Linked DNA regions of Homo sapiens. The main gene of each other region encodes a partner of the protein of the gene in region 2 in a complex. Each region holds a gene or a part of one and is shown on either strand. Other genes may lie near its edges.

What was found.
Region 1: URI1 (region 2) and DNAAF10 share a complex: the UniProt entries of both Homo sapiens proteins name them as parts of the PAQosome complex.
Region 3: URI1 (region 2) and RUVBL1 share a complex: the UniProt entries of both Homo sapiens proteins name them as parts of the PAQosome complex.

The regions. Positions count from the first base shown.
Region 1 is NC_000002.12:68,136,838-68,140,589, forward strand, and holds part of DNAAF10 (dynein axonemal assembly factor 10), read right to left. Parts: intron 2,021-3,752; coding exon 1,905-2,020; intron 597-1,904; coding exon 462-596; intron 1-461. UniProt on the Homo sapiens protein: Key assembly factor specifically required for the stability of axonemal dynein heavy chains in cytoplasm.
Region 2 is NC_000019.10:30,008,120-30,011,871, reverse strand, and holds part of URI1 (unconventional prefoldin RPB5 interactor 1), read right to left. Parts: intron 2,868-3,752; coding exon 2,519-2,867; intron 779-2,518; coding exon 636-778; intron 1-635. UniProt on the Homo sapiens protein: Involved in gene transcription regulation. Acts as a transcriptional repressor in concert with the corepressor UXT to regulate androgen receptor (AR) transcription.
Region 3 is NC_000003.12:128,096,077-128,099,828, forward strand, and holds part of RUVBL1 (ruvB-like 1), read right to left. Parts: intron 2,870-3,752; coding exon 2,806-2,869; intron 1,423-2,805; coding exon 1,224-1,422; intron 1-1,223. UniProt on the Homo sapiens protein: Possesses single-stranded DNA-stimulated ATPase and ATP-dependent DNA helicase (3' to 5') activity; hexamerization is thought to be critical for ATP hydrolysis and adjacent subunits in the ring-like structure contribute to the ATPase activity.

The DNA.
Region 1 (3,752 bases), on a different chromosome or scaffold from region 2:
ACATTTACTATAATCACAGTACTCAGTGATTCAAATAATTTCATTTAATATAGCAAACTGGAATATAAAACAAAGTGTAATGAAATGACATCATGTACATATAGTTTATTTTGAAAAATATATAACCAGGTATTAGCACAAATATTATATACTTATTAGGAAACACCAGGCTGGGTTTTGTTGATCAAATTCCTAATATCAGCTAGGTTTCTTCTAATTGCTCCTAAACTACAAAATAAGATTCCTACCTGAGATCTTTATTATAATCAAGAAGTCTAAAGTTGATAAACTTTGGGGAAGTACTCTTTGCACAGAAAAACTTGTCAAGATCTCACAGGAATATATCAAAAATAGCTCCCTTCACATAAAGACCTGGAAGAAACCTTGGTGACTAATTCTACTTATCAGTCTAAACCAAGCTATCATTCTTCTTCATAGAAAGACATTTCCCTCATATTTACCTTTTCTGAAACAGAGGCAAAACCTTTGGTTGGATGCTGTGTTCTCATGTCAAAAACATGGAACTTTCCTTCCAGAGATGTGGCTACTAACTTATTCATACTTATGTCTTTTCTGTCAAACTCCAAGCTACACACCTGAAAACAGAGAATACTTATTATTGGTAGTCTCACCAGTATTACTCAGGAGGCTCTTTTATACTAAGTAAAACAGCTTTAAAATGGTCAGATAATGTGAAAGCACTCCAACAATCATTTATCTTTTAACTTTTCCCATAAAAATTTTTTTCCAGCCAGGCGCGGTGGCTTATGCCTGTAATCCCAGCACTTTGGGAGGCCAAGGCAGGTGGATCACGAAGTCAGGAGATCAAGACCAGCCTGACCTACATGGTGAAACCCTGTCTCTACTAAAAATACAAAAATTAGCCAGGCGTGGTGGCGTGCGCCTGTAGTCCCAGCTACTTGGGAGGCTGAGGCAGGAGAATTGCTTGAACCCGGGAGGCAGAGGTTGCAGTGAGCTAAGATCATGCCACTGCACTCCATCCTGGGCGACAGAGTGAGACTCTGTCTCAAAAAAAAAACATTTTTTTTTTTTTTGGCCAGGCACAGTGGCTCACGCCTGTAATCCCAGCACTTTGGGAGGCCAAGGCAGGCAGATCATGAGGTCAGGAGATTGAGACCATCCTGGCTAACACGATGAAACCCCGTCTCTACTAAAAAATATGAAAAATTAGCCGGGCATGGTGACAGGCGCCTGTAGTCCCAGTTACTCGGGAGGCTGAGGCAGGAGAATGGCATGAACCTGGGAGGCAGAGCTTGCAGTGAGCCAACATCGCGCCACTGCACTCCAGCCTGGGCGACAGAGCAAGACTCCATCTCAAAACAAACAAACAAACAAACAAACAAAAAACCCATTTTTTTTTTCCATTAGTAAGATCAACAAAACAATCTTGGGTTCCCATGCTCAGTGAATGCCTTTGGGGAATCATTATTTAACTTTTTACATTATTTAACAGTTAAGTAAAGGCTAACAGTAGAAAACAGGAGGAAACCACATTCTTTGCTAAAGGTGCACAACTAAGGAACCAAAAATCTGAGCTGGGGAGGTGACTACTGTTTCAGGCTTTCTGATATTGGCATAAAAAGACCTTTTACTTGCTTATTTTGAAATCTTACTACATGGCCCACAGGGGTCTGCAGACAGGCTGAAGGGGCTGGTGACTCCCCCAACGCTGTGCAAACCACATGTGGGTGTGAGCTCATTTTCTGAAGAGAGGATCCAGGATTTTCATTAGATTCTCAAACGGATTTGGCCTCAAAAAGTTAAGAACCGTTGGCAGAGGGGTTGACTCAGATGAGTTACTAGAGGTGTTTTCCTTTTGTAATAGTTCAGAGGTGAATGGAAACATGCTCAGAGAAACCAAAAAGCCTCAGAATGTACTTTACCCCATTTTTGATGTTTGTCTCCCACCGTAATGCCATATTTCTGAGATCAAATAGTTTGATATCCCCATTGTCATAGCCAGCACAAACAACACGTTCTTCTTGATTATAAGCATTGCCTGGAAATCAAGATACAACATTTCACATCCTTATAAATGCATCCTTATAAAGGCTGCTTTAAAAAAGTCTTATGAAACTAACATAAAACTTATATTAAATCAGATCTTAAAAATCACACTGGGTAGTATCCCATCTTACCAATCCTGAGAGGACATCAAGATTATTAATGTGGTATCCATTAGTTTTTTGTTTTGTTTAAATTTCTGATAAGAGTTTGGATATTTGTCCCCCCAAATCTGATGTTGACGTATGATCCCCAATGTCGGAGGTGGGGCCTGATGGGAGGTGCTGGGTCATGGGGCTGGATCCCTCGTGAATGGCTCAGTGCAGTCCTTATGGTAATGAGTTTTCGCTCTTCTAGTTCATGTGAGGTCTGGTTGTTAAAGAGTCTGGCACCTCCCTCCTCCCCTCTCTCTTGCTCCCTCTCTCGCCATGTGACATGCCTGCTCCCCTTTTGCCTTCTGCCATGAGCAGACAATTCCTGAGGTCTCACCAGGAGCAGATACTGGCACCATGCTTCTTGGATACTCTTGCAGAATCATGAGCCAAATAAAACTCTTTTCTTTATAAACTACCCAGTCTCAGGTATTCCTTTATAGCAATAAAGCAATTCAATGCAAAGCAGACTAACTAATATAAGCTCATTCACTGTAATTCCATACTGAAAGGATATGTGAAAGTGTTTATTGAATTCAATTTAAATAAAATGCTTTATAGGAGATCGAGACCATCCTGGCTAACACAGTGAAACCCTGTCTCTACTAAAAAAAAAAAAAAAAGAAAAAAATACAAAAAATTAGCCGGGTGTGGTGGCAGGCGCCTGTAGTCCCAGCTACTCGGGAGGCTGAGGCAGGAGAATGGCATGAACCTGGGAGGCAGAGCTTGCAGTGAACCAAGATCGCGCCAATGCACTCCAGCCTGGGCAACAAAGCGAGACTCTGTCTCAAAAAAAAAAAAAGAAAAGAAAATGCTTTCTACTATATCTGCAAAGGCTAGCAGGCCAACTACAGCTCAAACACAAAGGGGTCTCAGAGAATAAATACAGTTATACCTCTATTGCTTTCTTGGCAGTAACTATATTTGAATGCAAACAGAAACTTTAAAACTAATTTATCTTGAAAAATGTTGCTCTGGTGTGATTCCATCTTTACAAGGAAATCTGAAATAAGTTGTAGCACACTGTGACATATTTTTAGTAGTGTGGATGATCATACCTGAAGTAAGTTTATAATCTGTGGTTAAACTCATCCTCCTGGAATTAATTCAAGGATTTTTTTCCAAGTATCTCTTGCTGAGGAAAGAGTGTTAAGTGAGAAGGAGGCCCCTGTCACTGTGCTATGCTATCTGGGCATCCTATCCCAATGCTTTCATTGCCCCTAACTTCGTTTTTCTCATAAACTCCAGCCCTGCATTTCCACTGTGGGCCCCACCTAGATGGTACACCATCATCTTAAACTCATGATGTCCCAAAATGACCTTACCATTTTCCTTTACAAATTATCCCACCCCTTGTATAATTTTTTCAATTAATACCATCATTCACCCCACAATCAGCCTGAAAACTCAGTCATCTTGGACATTATCCTTTTCTTTGTTCTTCATATCCAAAAACATTCCCAAATTCTATGTATTCTGCATAATATTATCTTCTGAATCATCCACTCTGCTCCCTTCTCAGTGCTTGTAACTTAGGTCTTCCCTGGAATACTGCAAAGAGCTCTTGAACTCATA
Region 2 (3,752 bases):
CCACCCTGTGTCCAAGTGTTCTCATTGTTCAATTCCCACCTATGAGTGAGAACAAAAACACAGCATGTTATTTTTAAGCATGTCCTAGGTGGCAATAGCATGGTTTGCCAAAATTCTACATAAAGTTTTAGACCCACGTATACATTTAGCAATTTTCACTGATTTATAAATAAGGGTCATAAAAACAGTAGGTATTTTCAAGTGATAGTTTTCTCAACAAACAATTCCAAAAAAAAGGAAAAAAAAAAAAAACCTGCAACAGTATAATTTCTACTCTGAAAAGGTAAACTGCATGCCAAGCATGTTACGGCTGTGGTAGAAACGTAGGGACCTAGCCCACTGGAAACAAAAATGCTTTCTGAAGATACAAGATTTTCTGACTAGACCATTTGGAAATGTTTCAAAAGCACTGGTGAAGAGGAGAAAGTGAAAAAAAAAAAAAATCCTCCATTCCCACTGCTCTGGACTGGGAAGCTACAGCCGGTCAGCCTATCAGATCCTAAGTTAACTCCTCAGAACACTTCACTTTTCAGTGAGGGTCTTCTGTGTTACAGTCAACTTTCTCCAGTAAAGGTTCAGTGGCAGAAAGAGAGGCAAGCCCAGCAGACTGCCCTGCAGCTGTGAGCGCCTCCCACCTGTAAATGTCTGCAGGCGTCCTGATGGTCGGCAGCTCCTGGGCAGAGTGGCCACTGCCAGTGCTGTTCTTTCGTTTACGTTTGGCTTCTTCTTTCTTTTCACTGAATTTTAAAGTGGTATTCTTTCCAGTATTTATTCGGACCTAAAATTTCAGAGCAAGAAATTAAGAATCTTTTGACAAATTAAATCAAAGTGAAACCAAAACAAATAAACTCTATAACTAAAAAAATAATAGTAAGAGAGGCAGCTGAAATTTTCTGATGCTGAAATGATGTGCATTATCAGATGGAATTTTTTAAAAAGTCCTTATCTCATAGATCTATGACATCTAAAGAAAATCTTCTTTATTAACAAATCCTAGTCTTCAGTGTCTTTATTATTGTAGAGAAAGCAAAATACATTTGAACTAAATGCTAGATTTCTTATAAACTTCCCATCACCCCATTCCTTTGATATAAGTGTTTGGCTTGAATTATGTATTTCAAAAGAAAGAGTATAAACAAAAATTCAGTAAGAATACAACCTTTAAGTCATAAAAGTACTATTAAATAATGCCTATTTAGAATTTTTAAAACATCTCTAATTTTTAGAAATTGAAGGAGTAAAAAAATAAAAACCAAGCCTGTTCAGGGTTCACATGGGGTTAACATGTTATTTTTCTATCCCTAGTCAGCACTTAGAGCATACTTTCCACAATAATGACCACTATTACCTGTAACGTTCCTGCAAATAATATTTGTTCTTTCTGTTTTATCTAAATGAAAACAGGAAAAAAGTAAAAGCCTGGCAAAAGATTAAAAAGCGACCTTTTTTTCTGGCTAATCATCTCAGTCAACTTTTCCCGAAGAATCAGGGGAAGACCCCTTCAGTCTGACATATTAGAATATAAAAACACAAACAATTATTTCACTTCATATAGGAGCAGGAATAACTTTAGGAAGCTAAGAAATATCAAATATGTTTTAAACATATTTCACTAAATAATAATCACACACACTTAAGAATGATACCACAGACCCTTAACTGATACAGGCAATCGGGATATTGTGTAGAAAGGGCACTCAGAGGCGAAAGAGTTCCTGTTTTGTTACCAACCAGATCTATGTCTTCTAGGCCTTAAATTTCCCTGAGAAAGACGAATTAGACGAATTCCCAGTGTCCCCTTAGAGCAGTACATGGAGCAGAGAGAGGGCAAAGATGGACTTAAGGCAGCCTATCCTTCCTTCAATCAGAGCCAAGCTGCTTTGATCTATTTTAAATACTGGGATTCTACAGTAAGTATGGAGGGAACAAAAGGCTTTTCATACTAGAGAAAAGCTTTAAAACTCTGTATTAGAAAATCTCCAGTCACCCCCAGCTCTAAAATGCCAAAATTCTAAGTCATGATTATCCACAGATGTTTATATTTACTTTGTCAGAAAAGAAACTAATTTTTACTTCCTCCTACATTTTCCCTTTGTGCCTATGAAGTATTCATTTTATGTCCATAGAAAACAACCTGGCATAATTAAAAATTTAACTAATGCAGTCACTTTCAACATCCTAAGCACACCAAAATGTCCACAATATAATTAACTCCAGGATTCTTAAGAAAACTCTCTGAATGAAGGACAGGTGAAGTTACAGTAGTTGCCACTCAAATCTGATCCCCTTCCAGACCCCAAACAATGCATTGTTTCAGAGAACAATGGACCAATACCAGCTAACTAAATTTTTTTTCCCTTTTTCTTCTTAAATTGGTCAGAACAAGAGGCAAAAGATGATTTTCCTGTCTGGCACTATCCACAATGATAATGATTGTTAATATTGCTCTTCTAAAAAATATCATAATGCTTAATGTTCAAATTATATGCAAAATTAGTAAAGTTAAAAGTATACAAACCCTCTTAGGCTCAACAGTATGTGAAAAATATATTGTTGGTATAGAATTATCTCCAACCCCTAAAGCCTCATGGTCGTTATCACCATCATCGTCGTCAATGTTGTCGTCGTCGTCGTCATCATCATCATCATCATCATCATCACTGTGGTAAGAACTGGAACCATTCACTGAACAGTTCAACTGACTATTCACTTGACCACTGAATGGTTCTGAACTTGCAACATCCTTATGACAAGGAGTATGAGAGTCTGTTACTTGATGCATCGCATTCACATTTGTGTTACGATCTTCCTTTTCCTCTTCAGAAGATGTCGTATCTTCTCCATTTGCAATCACAGTATCAGGCTTACTAGCAAGGAAGAAAATTAACAAGATCAAACAAACATACTAGAATTTTACATTATTTAAATTTCCAGTTAGTTTCCATGGGTAAATACTAAGATCTTGAATAAAGTATTTTTAAAACTAGAATTCTAAGTTCAAAAACAAAAAAATGTTTTGAAATAAATTAACAAAAAACAGTTCCTATGCTGCTTCTATATATTGAGGTTATTCAGACATAAGTAGAATATAGAAGATAATTTTTTTATCTTTGCAAGAAAGATATTGGCCATATGCAATATAAATATAGTATCAATAATAATAAAGTTGTAAGAAATTCAGAGAACATTTATCTCTAAAGACCAGAAATTGAAACCACATAATACACACTTATTTTCTACTCCTATACTCAGAATATTTTACAATGAGCATGTATTATTGTAATTTTTAAAAATAAAGGATTTATACATATGCACACGAATATATCTATATGCATGAGTGAACATTTATCATACTTGATTCTATAAAAGATGTGAGGACCTTACAAAAATAACAAAATTGAAAATGCAACAGAACTGAAATAACATCATACAAAAAATAGAAAGAGAATCATGACCAAGAAAAATCACAAGATCCAAAACTGGTTTTAAAAAATGAATAGTATTAGTTAATCAAAAAGACCTAAGAATTTATAGGTGAAACACTAGGAAAAAGAAACTTTTATGCTTCCTGCCCTATTTTTCACAGAAACTAATTATTGCATATGGTACATCATTTAAGCAAAATAATATAGAACTTCTCGAGTAGCAGATTTCATTTAGCATTTTAACAATTCTAAGTGTGTGCTAATGTGTATTTCAAACAGCAATTTCGTAAAGTTTCTCATACATATAGCTATCTGACCAGATTACAA
Region 3 (3,752 bases), on a different chromosome or scaffold from region 2:
GTCTTTCTAACTCCCACTGCCTCCACTGCCCTGAGCATGCAGCCTCAGGGACTTTGTCCCCACACTACTCTATTGCAGGCTTGAAAACAGGCCCCTCATCACCCACCTTTGTGCCCCCAGCACTGCAGAGACCAGGCACTAATGTTTAAACAAGATCACAGAAAACCAAAAGAGCAATAAAACTACCAGGTACTGGGAATACTGACACTGGGCTTGAGAGATGGGAAGATGGGGTGTTCTCCAGGACCACGAGCGTGGAGAGTGCTTAGGAGAAAAAGCAACCGCAGGAAAGTTCCTGGCCCAGCTTTGGGCCAATCTTGGCAGGATGAGCACCGTATGAACACTTGTCTTCCAGGGGTCAACATCTGCCCTTCCCAAAGGCAGGCCAAAGGGATGGGAAAGAGTGGAGCGGGAGGATGGAAAGACACCAGTGTGGTTCAGAGGTCTGGGATAGAAAGAAAATGCTGGGGCCGGGCGTGGTGGTTCATGCCTGTAATCCCAGCACTTTGGGAGGCTGAGGCGGGCAGATCACGAGGTCAGGAGATCAAGACCATCTTGGCTAACACGGTGAAACCCTGTCTCTACTAAAAATACAAAAAAATTAGCCAGGCGTGGTGGTGGGCAACTGTAGTCCCAGCTACTCGGGAGGCTGAGGCAGGAGAATGGTGTGAACCCGGGAGGTGGAGCTTGCAGTGAGCCGAGATCGCGCCACTGCACTCCAGCCTGGGCGACACAGTGAGACTCTGTCCCCAAAAAAAAAAAGAAAGAAAATGCTGGTTTTGTTATCAGAAGGAGCTGGGTTCTTATCCTGTCTTTACGATGAGGGACAAGTTATGATTCCAGTTTCCTTATTTGAAAAATGACGCCAATAATGCCTACCTCTCAGAGCGCAGATGAAGACTGAAGACGTTCATGTGTATAATGTCATCAAAGGCTAGCCCTGTCTGATCTCACCTTTGTACACTCCAATTGAACGACCAAATTGTAGTATCACACCCAAAAGATCACGTGGGAGACCCTCCTCATGAGTGACAGGACAGCTGCTGCCTTTGGTGACTAGGGAAATGAGGCCAGAGGCAAGCCACTTGGCACATTTTCCCTCAAAAACAACATGACCTCCCCTCATCCCTGTCCCACCTCATGGGGTTTGGAGAGATCCTGAGGAACAAATGAGCCCAGATGGAAGTTAAAAAAGCCTTGTGGCTGGCAGGCAGCCATCCTACCTGATGACACAGTTGCCTCGGTTGGATGCAAAGATGACGATGGGAGCGATAGAAGACTCCAGGGCGCGGTGCAGGTAGGTGAAGCACTCAATGTCCAGCATGTGGACCTCATCAACAAACAGCACACCCGGGACCAGCTCAGCAATGCCCTGGTCGATGTACTTGTTCACCACCTTATTAATCTCCCCTCGAAGTTTGTCTAGGAGATGCAAGGATGGGCAGGCAAGGTCAGCACAGGGCTGGGGGAGACTATCGCCTTTTCTCCTCCACCTGAATTCAATCCAAACCCATGCTAGGAGCCTAGTTTTCCTACTAGCTATGTGATCCCAGACAGGGTGTGTCCCCACTCCAGGTTTCAGTGTCGTCATCTGAACACAGTGATAATCACACCTAAAAGGTCACAAAATTGGCAGCCTCCCCCAAAAGATGAGTTTGGTTAAATGTAAAAAGGTTGCACAGGTGTTCTGCATGGGAATCCCTTCACAGCACACGCTCACTGCTGTCACACTCCCTACCATGCCTTATCACTTCCCACATACCCAATCTAGCTCTGTCTGATCTGGGAGACATTGGAGTTTGGGAGCCCTGGGTGAAATGAGTTTTCACATGCAAATTTACCTGTTCTATACTCAGTAAATGACCCTTTCTTTTGGTCCCATACAACAATGCTTAGGTTAATTAACTTTCAATCAAGTGCCTGGACTAAGGAAGTGGGTGCTTTTAGAATCCTGAGCAGAAACCTTTGAGGAATGAAAGGCTCTGAAGAAAGGCCCAATCTCAGAGCTCCTAGAGGGATGAGTCTCTCAAAAGTTACATAACCCAGCTAAGGTCTCAGTGCTCATTTTCCAAACCAGCTCCTGTGTTATCATCAGGAGGGAGCAGCTCACAAATAGAAAACTGGAAGATCTGAGGCAGCGTCTTCCACCAAAGGCAAGAGGCGGGGATTGTCCAAAGAGGATGCACACCGAAAACCGTGTGAAAAGAAAGAAACTGCTTCTGACAACTCGAACAGAAAGGTCTCAGATTGCTGCCCTGGCTTAAACTTTAAAGACAATATTTGCTTTAATGTTTAACTAACATCTTAAGGTGACGAAACTGTAGGTGGAATTAGAAAAAAAACAGCAACAGGAAAGCTGGGAAGAGCAGCAGGTTAAATAAAGGTTCACAGGGGAGCAGCAGCAGTGTCCCCTGTGGAGCTCTGGGAAGTGCCCACAAACTGGGCAGGGCAGTATGTGGAGCTGGTCTGTGGAGCTGCCCTGTGCTCTACTAGGGAGGGGGCTGACAGCCCCAAGGCTCCAGAGCCTGTGCTCCAGCAGAGCTGGGCGACACAAATCCCTATTTCTGGGGCCTCATAGGGGCCAGAAACTGTGACTGCAGTGGGGCAGATAGCACACAGTGTGCTATATGGCTGCCTAAATGCCGCCAGAAACTTAGGCTAGAGTCAAGCTCTAAGCTATGAGGAAGAAAGAACTGTTCTGAGGCATTTCCTCAGGGCGACTGTGCTCACAGAGCCGCAAGAGCATCTCAGAATGTGGGGCCCTCCGCCCTGCCCCTTGCTCACAGGGCACACTGGTTCTCCTACCTGTGATTTCTGTCTTCTTTGGCTTCATTAGCTGGCCCATCATGGACAGGATATCTTGTCCCCCCTGCATAAGAGAAGACTTAGAGTCAGTGCTGCTTTCTAAGGTGACTACAGAAGCCTCATCCCCCTGCATCCCACTCATCAACTCAACATGGGATCCTGAGGTATGGAGACCCCTCCTCAAAGCCTGAGGAGCTTCTAAACACAGAGGAATTTTTAGAGGTTCCCCTAACCTGTAAGAATCAAACAAAATCCTTTCATGGCAAGTATAAGCTCCGTGGGGCCTGCCCAGCCTCCTTTTCCAGCCCTATCTTTTTCCAACCCCTTGTTCCTTGATTAGCCACACAAGACTACCAGCCCTGCCCTGGACACCCCCAAGCTTTTTTATGACTCAATGCTTTTGAGTCTATTCCATCTGCCAGGAATGCCATTCTCCTTCCTAGAAGTTCCCAGTCATTAAAGTTCACGTCAAATGCCCTCTAGGGCGCATCTGACCCTAACCGGACTCAGGACTTCCTCCAAATGTTCCTGTGCCTTTGGGGACACATGGACTATAAGAGTAAGTATAAAGAGCAAGTATAAATATACCATGATTATATTGCTGTGCCTCCTCTCACTAGATTTGACCACAGGCTTGCATCAGCCTAGTCCTTACTTAACTTGGAGCTGATCATGGCTGACTCCATAACAGGTTCACCACTCACCTGCATCCTCCTGCGGGCTCCTAACAGTGCAGTCAGCAAGAGGAAGAGGCTGGTGTTTGGTCATTTATTCAGCATTTAGTGATCACCTGTTGGTTACCAGGCCCTGAGACACAGAAGGGCTCACTAAATGCTGAATAGCTAAAGGCAGCAAATGTTTCCTGTCTGGTCCTCAAAACTGCCTTGCCAAGTAGGAGGGAACTCAAAACCGAACCCCAAACCACAGAAAACCCAGAGACCCAAAGT